3 linked regions of the Homo sapiens genome follow. The protein of the gene in region 3 purifies or fractionates together with the protein of the main gene of each other region. This does not show direct contact. Each region holds a gene or a part of one and is shown on either strand. Other genes may lie near its edges.

Region 1 (3,729 bases), on a different chromosome or scaffold from region 3:
TCTTTTGATATTAGACAATAAGCAGATCTCTAAGAGAGACCCCTAGCACTTATGGATCCCTCCATGATGAGCAGACAAATGAGAGGGAATCAGGAACTCACCAGAATTCAGCTCTTTCACAAGAGAGGACATAGTGTTAGTGATGGAATCTGCAGCCACTAGCAAGTCATTCCTTAAGTTTCTTCTTGAACCTTCAGGGAAGAAGAAATAATTTAAAAAACCAAAGCTTCCTTCTATCCTAAATTTTTATGTTGTTTATTTATCCTTCCCATTAATAACCTAAAGCAAGAAAACTTCTAAGACTTCTCCTTTTCAGAAGTGCTTTAGTTCATTTCCTGAAACAAGAACAACAACAACAACAAAACACTGCTTAGGGCAGTGGGTCCTGCAGTAAGAAGACATGGCTAATGATGGAGTTTCATATATTATTTGTCCATATGGGGACAATTTTGAAGGTGAAAGAGAGCAGTATGAATAAGGCTGGCTGACCTGGCAAAACTGGGATGGTTCCAGGTAAACCAGTGCGTGTGGTCACCCTTCTTAAGAATAATCCACACAGATGAAAAATCAGGTTTTCCAGGAGAGCTGCGCCTTCCTAGCTGCTATTATTTTTCTTGCCCTTACCTGGTGGCTGAGCCCTTTAGATTCTGGTCTCTACTAGGACATGCGCTGTCTCCTATCAGGGCTCTTGGAGCTCTTCCTGCCAGTGTAAGTACCACTTGGGAATGGGAAACCCACATGCACTGAATGCCCCCAGAGCGTGAGAAAGGGGTGAGGATTCTTGTTTCTTCTGCCAAGACATGGGCAGATGCATGTCTGGTACTATAAATTGGAACTTAGACTATGTTTCTTTATGGCAGAGAAAGATTATTATTTTGTTTCAGGCACACTAAGGGTTAATGGAATTTCATTCCGTCATTTTTCAGAAAGTAATACTAACTAAATAAAATAATAAATGTTTAAATTAAAAAAATCAGAGTAGTTAAGTAAAAACATTAATTATAATGGAAATCACAAATTGATTTAAAATATAGTACATTTCTTTAAAATATGATTAAGAGAAGGGATATTTTCTTTCTAAAAATTAAAAGTTATTTTGTGAATTACATTTTTAAAAACTCTTGAGTTATATTCAGTGCCTAGAAGAAAAAGTTCTAATATAGATCCTTCCTTTTCCCTCAGAGTAGAGAGTTCATCATTCTCTCTCATTGAAGTGTGTTAAGATTTTATCACCCCTCTACATGGACGAGAGTACCTTTTTCCTCGCACTTTTGCTATCCCTGGATATTATGATGTTTCAAAACATTTTTTTAATCTTCTAGGCAAAAAGTGATACTTATTAAAATTTATATTTCTGTAATTAGAGGTTGAACATCTTTTCATATATTTATTGGCAATTTCTCTTTGTTCTTCTGTCTATTCGTATATTTCACCTGTTTTTGTTTTGGTGGTGTCTATTCTTTCTGATCTCTACATGATTTTTGTATAACTGAAATTATGAAACTTGATTGACACATATACTGGAAATGGTTTCCTCAAGACTGTTTTCTGTCTTTTAACTTTGTTTATGATCTCTTTTGCCTTAAAACCCATATTCAAACATGTCTCTCTTTTCCTTAGATCTCTATGTGAAGACTTCGAAGAATGTTAATGATATATTGCTAATTTAAAGAAAATGCAAATTGCAGACCCCAAAATGCAATGCATGATCCTATTTGTGTGAAAAAAAGAGTATGTGTCTATAATCACATCCTTAAACATATCTATTTACACAAAAGCAAAACTTTGGGAAGGATCAAACTGTTAATAGTGGTTACTTCTGGGAATGAAAGCTGCCGGTGAAGGTCTACAGAATGATTTTTTTATTATTATTCTCTATAAATTTAAAAAGTGATAGTAAGAAGAGGTTTTAAAAAGTGTTAAAAATATTTCTAAATTAATAAAGTTACTCTCCCTGTCATGGGAAAGTGCTGGCTGGCATCCCCATCCCTCTTTGTACTCCTCTAACTGCAGAGGCTTAACCCTGTAGCCCTGCCTTACAGAGGCAATGATTCAACTCTTCGGGGCATCAGAACAGGGAATCTGTCAAATGACTAAATGTCCTTCTTGGTTACCTCATTGCTAAAGAGCTGTGATTACTTATCTCAGTCTTGACTTTAATATAAAGAAAAGACAATATGAGATAAGAAAATCTCTAAGAATTAAAAAAAATAGATTACATTTATGAAGTTTTCTGGGGGTATTGGTGAAAAGATTTCCTGTCTTTTGATGAACAAAGACTTACTAAAAAATAAGGCAGGGCAACAAAAGCCAAAGGAAGGTAAAATCGTGAAGTGAGAACAAATTGGTGTAGGGAGTTCCCAAAATGGCTGGCAGGCCAGGCTCTGACACCAGCCATGAAAGACCCTACAATAGTCACATGTGGTTCTGACAACTCTTGACCACTCAATAGACCTTGGTGACCTATTTGCCACATAAAAGCAGACCACAACAAAAAATAAAGCCACTTACTTTGTGCAAATGCCTCTTGTACATCTCCCCCTACTCCTGTGAGGGAGTCCTGCGGCGTGTGCGTCGGGGTGGAGCAGGCTGACGCTGACCGGATGGGCATGGGAATTGGCCTGCTGATGGTGTGGCTGGGGGAGGAGCGGGGAGAGCCTGCCCCCTGAGTCTGGAGAGACAATGCAGGTCATTAATTTGCTTTCCCAAGAAAATGTCATATGTCATCCCCAATGCCTCAGTTGATTGTTGAAAACAGTGACAATGAAATTTCAAAGCAGGAGGAAATCCTAGGTAATTGTGTTGGTAATCCTAAAGCTAATTTGCAGGTGCAGATAATTTAGGACCTTATTGTATGTAATCTGAAGTTTGGGTTAAATATTGAAAGCTAAAACTATTAGTACAGCATTGCTCTACAGTATATGGGACATGTGCCCATAAAATGAAGGTACTGTTAAATGCAGATAATTACAAGGTGTGGATACTTTCTCCTTGAAGGAAGGTCTCCGAGGACTAAGAAGACATTAAGGAGAAAGTTTAAAATACAAACTAGAAGACTATTTGCAATGGATGCTTTCTGAATTTTCAACCTGACTGTACTAGCATTATCTTTAGAGGATAAGAGTTTAAATCATGTCATACAATATTGTGCATATTAAGTCTCAAATTAAGAATCAAATGAAGTGTAAATTGTTTTATCCCTATTTTATAGTAAAAGCTGATTTTGTCAAATTAGTAACTCAGGGATTCCAATGGGGAAGAAGAAGAAGAAGAAACCTTGTTTTCTAATTTTTTGGTATTATTTCCTGCAGGAAATGTCCTTCTCTTCTCCTATGAAAAAGCAGTATTCTAGCAGGACAATAAGAATAGTAGGATTTAAAGACAAGTAAAGAAAAAAGTAGAAAACAACTGAAGGAACTTATCTTTGCACTACAGTTTTTGGCATGAAACTATTCTGAGACTGTCACACTTTGAATCTTAAGGATTTGTCTCTAAATGAGGTGCCTTGGAAATATTCTCCCTGTTTTAATAATTAGTTGACAAAAGAAGTCAGCCACATGCGTAAGAAAATGCAAGGAGACCCTTGAGTGCATACACAACAGATTAGGTGTTCACATCAATTCCATCCCAGTCTGTTTGCTGTGGTTGCTAGAGTGAGAATTCTTCTCCAGCAAGGCCCAGAGAGTCATCATTAACCCATTCAAACTCCTAGATGTATACCACCAGAGC
Region 2 (2,268 bases), on a different chromosome or scaffold from region 3:
TTGTCCTGGAGGCGGTGCCTGGGCGGGGAAGGGAAAAGCCCCTCAGGGGAGCCCCCACTCCCAGCCCAGCAGGGAAGAGGGTCTCCTCTGGGGAGAGGGGGGAGGTGTGGAAGCCAGGACGGCACCCCAGGTGAGAGCATCACATCTGCAGACGCCTCAGGGAGCATCCGTCCCAGACGGGGAGGCTGTGGTAAAGGCAAGAGACCAGGCCAGGGAGAAAGCCACAGAGGAGGCGCCAGTCAGGGCCCAGGCTTCCGGCTTCAAGGCCAGCCCTGCTGTCCCCAGGGGAGGTGAGCAGGAGCTCTGGGTCCAAGTCCCATCTTGGCCAAGGGACCCATAATCCATAATGCGTTTCCCACCTGCCCTAGGCCTCGGCCTCCCGCTGGTCTCCTGAGGGGTGTGATGGGATCACCACTGCTCGTGGCACCGGAGGCTCGGGGACAGCAGGCCCCGGATGTGCACACACACTTGCCTGCTCTTGAGTCGCTTGCTGATGAGGTACATGGCCGCTGCACCCATGTACTTGGCCACGGCACCCTCCACGGCTCCGAACTTGCCCTCGCGGACAATGTAGTCAAAGGACGCCAGAGCCTCGGTGGGCGTGCGGTACACATTGGGGGAGATCAGGTGCACCAGCCAGTCGTCCGCCCACTGCCGCCACTTCATCTCCTCCCTGCGGGCACGGGAGGGACTTCCTAAGCCAGGACCCGGGCTGTGTTGGGAGCAGGCTGCATTCTCTAGAACATACCCACTGCACGGGCGGGAAGCTGAAGCCTGAGCAGGAAGGTCTTTTTTTTTTTTTTGAGACAAAGTCTCGCTCTGTCACCCAGGCTGGAGTGCAATGGCACCATCTCAGCTCACTGCATCCTCCGCCTCCTGGGTTCAAGCGATTCTCCTGCTTCAGCCTCCTTAGTAGCTGGGATTATAGGTGTGTGCCTCCACACCTAGCTAATTTTTGCATTTTTATAGAGATGGGGTTTTGCCATGTTGGCCAGGCTGGTCTTGAACTCCTGACCTCAGGTGATCTGCCTGCCTCGGCCTCCCAACAGGCTGGGATTACAGGAGTGAGCCACCACGCCCGGCTGCAGGAAGGTCTCTACTGAAATCCGGCATGGCCCGGCCCCAGCCCCGCTGGTCTCCCATGCTGCTCCCTGCTCACGCCATCTTGCTCAGCTTGGTCCTACTCTACAGAAGACCCCTGCGGTCACCACCTTCCCCCGCCAGCCCCAGCCCCACTCACGTCCTGGCCTCCTTCCCACCATACACTTGCTGGGCCTCCTTCTCGTTGAGCATGAGCCAGTACTTATTGCCGAACTCGGTCACCTCCTTGCCCTGCTCGTTCACAGCCTTCATGGCTGGGTAGTAGGTGATGATCTCTTCCAGGGGCTGCCTTCGGAGAGAGCCACAATATCACCCCAACTCCTTCCCCCTCCGTCCCCTGTGGCCGACCAACCCCGCTGCCCCAGCCTCAGAGTGGAGCCAGGACCAACAAAGGCTCTCCGGACTCTTGCAGTAAGAGGGATTTGGAGTAGATGCCAGGGCTACCTCCCCAAGAGAGGGAGGTGTGGGGAGGACAAAGTAGGGGGCTTGGAGGAGGACGGCCACGGGCTACTCTGGAAAATCATTTTTTTTTTTTTTTGAGACGGAGTCTCGCTCTGTCACCCAGGCTGGAGTGCAGTGGCACGATCTTGGCTCACCGCAACCCTCTGCCTCCCGGGTTCAAGCGATTCTCCTGCCTCAGCCTCCTGAGTAGCTGGGACTACAGGCACTCGCCACTATGCCTGGCTAATTTTTGTATTTTTAGTAGAGATGGAGCTTCGCCATGTTGGCCAGGCTGGTCTGGAACTCCTGACCTCAGGTGATCTGCCTGCCTCGGCCTCCCAAAGTGCTGGGATTACAGGTGCGAGCCACTCTGTACTCTGGAAATCTAAGCAGCAGCTCCACGTGCTCCCAGGAGGGAACTCAGGGGAGGCCTCCCTGGAGGAAGCCACCAAAAGCAATGGCCACCTGGTCTCCGAGGGGCTCCTTACCCCGACACCAGGTAGGTCTTGAGGGCGCTGATGATGACAGAGGAGTCATTTAGTTGTTGCTGGAAGAGAAAAGGGTGGTTTAATCAGAGGTTGCAACCCAGCCGCTGGGAGTCACCAGGGGCTCTTTAACAAGACACTCTGGGCATTGTTTATCCATTCCTGGGGACATGCCCGGAGTCCTCCCCGCCCTGCCCTCAGGGCACCCATCCTAAGTAGGGAGACGTGGTTGTGGCCAATG
Region 3 (3,729 bases):
ACTGATCTCACTGAGGCACAGACTAGCCAACATTGGCCTATTTTAAAATTAAACTACCCTAGGAAGTGAAAACCCCACCTGCAGCCTGGTTTGCCCTCACACAAGGGAAAAGAGGTGTTAGAAGCAGTAGCTCAGGGCGATTAGGGGTTGTGCGTTTCCATGCTTGGGGCCAGGCTGGGCGCTGCCACCCGGTTTCCGCGTCTGGGGGTCACTGGGCCATTTGCACCACGACGGCTCTCCAGGCTTTCTCCTTGTCGAACTCCTTCAGGGGGCTCCTGGCCACCTGCAACCGAGACAGGAAAGGTGTTACTTCACCAGGGCCACCTGTGCGGCGGGAAGGTGGACACGCCACTCGGCCACAGGCAGCGAGCAGCCAGCGTTCAGAAGTTTTCTTCGAATGTGAAGGAAGTGGGGAAACTAACCCCTGGGCCTCTGTGGAAAGAGATAAAAGCCTTCACTTCCTCAGTGTCCCAGAAACGCCTGCATCCCCCCCCGCACACACGGTTTCTACCGAGCCTGGGATGGAGCAGCCCTTCACTCGGCCCCTTGCCCTGGCTCTGGGGCGGGGAGCGGGGGGAGGCCGCCCAAGGTTGGGCATGTGCCTGACGGCTGAGGAAGAAAACACTTAAGGCAGAGGTAACCAGATGCCTCCAGGCAAAAGGGAGGACAGCGCCAGCCCCAGCTGTCCACCCTGAGCCCCAGTTGTCCACCCTGAGCCCCAGCTGTCCACCCTGAGCCCCAGTTGTCCACCCTGAGCCCCAGCCACCCACCCTGAGCCCCTGGGCCCCAGCCGTCCACCCTAAGCCCCAGCCATCCACCCTGAGCCCCAGCCGTCCACCCTGAGCCCCAGCCGCCCACCCTGAGCCCCAACCGCCCACCCTGAGCCCAAGCCACCCACCTTGAGCCCCAGCCGTCCATCCTGAGCCCCAGCCGCCCACCCTGAGCCCCAGCCGCCCACCCTGAGCCCCTGGGACCAGCAGTTCTGGGATCTGGGGAGAACACCTCATGCGTCTGACTCTGGGCCTTGCTGGTCACAACAGAAACCCAGGCGGGTCTCATTTCAGGCCCAGGGACTGCCGTCCTAGCAGGGAGACTGACCACAGCCAGGAAAAATGGCAGCAAAGCAACTGAGGAGGCAGGTTAAGGGAACAGCAGTAGGGAGGGTGGAGGGTGGGGGCGACGGGGTCAGCTGAGAAACGAGCCAAGGGCAAGAGAGCGTCCTCCGGGACTTAGCGGGCACTGGAGGCTCTGCACCAAGGTTCTGAGGCCGGTGGTGTGCTGAACACAGGAGGGCAGGGTGTGCAGGGCAAGAGCAGCGGCCGGTCCGCCCAGGATGGCCTAGAGGTGGGGCAGGACTCAGAGCCCCGCTGAGTGGCTGCCCAGGTGTTTGGGCATCAAGGTGACAGTCCTAGTGGTCACTGCACCTGAGGGTCAGCGGGCAGGTTTGCCCAGGGGAGCACCACCAGGACCCGTAGCTCGGTGGGGGGAAGACGCTGAGCCTCTGCCTTTCAGATGTGGGGGCAGCAAGACAGTAGGCAGGGCCCGGGGGAACATTGTTCAGGCAGTGACAGCCAGAAGTTGTTGACACCCCAGCTTTACGGAGCCCCATGTGCCAGGCTGGGTGGGCATTGCCTTCCCTGCAGAACCGCGTCCCCACCAGAGACCAGGGAAGGAAACTTCAGGACCTGTGGGAGTCCTCACAAAGCCCTCTTCTGTGTCTCTAAGAGCAAATCTGAAAGCATTAAGTCCAGAATATTTCCCAGGGATGGGTCTGGGTTTACCCAGGCTTTGTGTTTGTATTTTTAAAAGACATTTTACGGCTGGGCGCGGTGGCTCACGCCTGTAATTCCAGCACTTTGGGAGGCCAAGGCAGGCGGATCATGAGGTCAGGAGTTCGAGACCAGTCTAACCAACATAGTGAAACCCCATCTCTACTAAAAATAGAAAAATTAGCTGGGCTTGGTGGCGGGTGCCTGTAGTCCCAGCTACTCGGGAGGCTGAGGCAGGAGAATTGCTTGAACCCAGGAGGCGGAGGTTGTGGTGAGCCGTGATCGCGCCACTGCACTCCAGTCTGGGTGACAGACTGAGACTCCTTCTCAAAAAAAAAAAAAAAAAAGAAAAGAAAGACATTTTACTTCTTCGGGGTTTTTCTGGGGTGTTTTTAAAAATACAAAGTGGCACAATGAATCTTCGAGGGCCACGTCGTGTGGCCCTCGGAGGCCCTCACCAGGACAGGAGCCCCCACCGCAGGCCTCTCACCTCCCCAGCGGGTGCTCCTGTGGGCCACTCACCTCCCCAGCACCCCTGAAACCCACAGGCCTCTCACCTCCCTGGCTGAGCACCCCTGTGGGCCACTCACCTCCCCAGTGCCCCCACCCCACAGGCTTCTCACCTCCCTGGCTGGGCCCCCCATGGGCCACTCACCTCCCCAGCACCTGCACCGCAGGCCACTCACCTCCCCGGCTGGGCACCCCTGTGGGCTACTCACCTCCCCAGCACCCCCTCCCCCTGCAGGCCACTCACCTCCCCGGCTGGGCACCCCTGTGGGCCACTCACCTCCCCAGCTTCCCCCCACCCCACAGGCTTCTCACCTCCCTGGCTGGGCACCCCCGTGGGCCACTCACCTCCCCAGTGCCCCCTCCCCCTGCAGGCCACTCACCTCCCCAGCCAGGCGCTCCTGCGGGCCGTTCTGGGTGTCCCAGGATGCACCCTGCAGCCTTGCACTGACCTTGAAGCGCACGCACTGGATGGCGGTGCCCGTGTTGAGGCCGGCCTGCAGCAGGAGCACTAGCAGCAGCAGCAGCAGCAGCACATCGTAGGATGGCTGCAGGCGGAAGGAGGTGTGAGCAGAGTGGCCCAGCCGCCCTCCAGCCCAGGAGACCAAAGCTCCCTCGTGCCCACGGCCTTCACAAAGAGCAGGTGCCAGGGCTCGAGTCGGAGCCCCAGTAACCCAAACGCATTGCTATTTCAACAACCTGATGATAATCATTCTAGCTCAATTAATGAGGTCAATTCTGCTTTAAATTCCATCAGCTTGTGTTCAACATACAGGAATAAAAGTGACCGAGCCACTGCCAGGCCCCGTGGACAGTGCTGGCTGCTAGTGGTCAAGTCGCTCCACCCCTCCTGCTCCAACACGCGCAAGGCTCAGTCCCAGAGCCAGAGAGAATGTCCGCGGGAGGCAGAAGCGCTGACCGTTCCGTGTCAGCAGGATCCTGAGCGGAGGAGACAGGGGGCAGCCGTCCTGGGGGGATGGGGTGCACAGACCCCCAACAGCTTCACCCCTGAGCACCAGCTGCTAGGAAGGAAGGGGCAGGAGGCAGCGCGGTGAGCTCGGCAGGGAAGAGGATGGAGGGAGCGGCCGAGGATGCAGGGGGCCAGAGAGTGACCACGGAGCACCCAAAACCCTCTGTGCCCATGGATAGCTTTCCCGTGTTGGCTCAAGAAAAACAAAGCAACTAAATGTTAACACACAAAAGAGCCAAACATCTATCCAATGTCACTGCTACAAAAAGTAAGAGAAGAAACAGAACGAACAGCTCTTCTCAAGTTAACATAAAACTTTTTTTTGCGACAGTCTCCCTCTGTCACCCAGGCTGGCGTGCAGTGGCGCGATCTCGGCTCGCTGCAACCTCTACATCCCAGGTTCAAGCGATTCTCCTGCCTCAACCTCGCCAGTAGCTGGGATTACAGGTACCCGCCACCACGCCCAGCTAATTTTCGTAGTTT

Evidence for each region.
Region 1: the proteins of MLC1 (region 3) and DTNA purify together in Homo sapiens (affinity purification with western blotting, with the first as the bait; one study listed by BioGRID). This does not show direct contact.
Region 2: the proteins of MLC1 (region 3) and PTGES2 purify together in Homo sapiens (affinity purification with mass spectrometry; one large-scale study listed by BioGRID and IntAct). This does not show direct contact.

The regions. Positions count from the first base shown.
Region 1 is NC_000018.10:34,874,181-34,877,909, reverse strand, and holds part of DTNA (dystrobrevin alpha), read right to left. Parts: intron 2,672-3,729; coding exon 2,512-2,671; intron 192-2,511; coding exon 102-191; intron 1-101. UniProt on the Homo sapiens protein: May be involved in the formation and stability of synapses as well as being involved in the clustering of nicotinic acetylcholine receptors.
Region 2 is NC_000009.12:128,122,462-128,124,729, forward strand, and holds part of PTGES2 (prostaglandin E synthase 2), read right to left. Parts: intron 2,090-2,268; coding exon 2,031-2,089; intron 1,391-2,030; coding exon 1,241-1,390; intron 674-1,240; coding exon 473-673; intron 186-472; coding exon of another isoform or gene 140-185; exon of another isoform or gene 25-139; intron 19-24; coding exon 1-18. UniProt on the Homo sapiens protein: Isomerase that catalyzes the conversion of PGH2 into the more stable prostaglandin E2 (PGE2) (in vitro). The biological function and the GSH-dependent property of PTGES2 is still under debate.
Region 3 is NC_000022.11:50,061,375-50,065,103, forward strand, and holds part of MLC1 (membrane protein MLC1), read right to left. Parts: intron 2,825-3,729; coding exon 2,660-2,824; intron 284-2,659; coding exon 209-283; 3' UTR 1-208. UniProt on the Homo sapiens protein: Transmembrane protein mainly expressed in brain astrocytes that may play a role in transport across the blood-brain and brain-cerebrospinal fluid barriers. Regulates the response of astrocytes to hypo-osmosis by promoting calcium influx.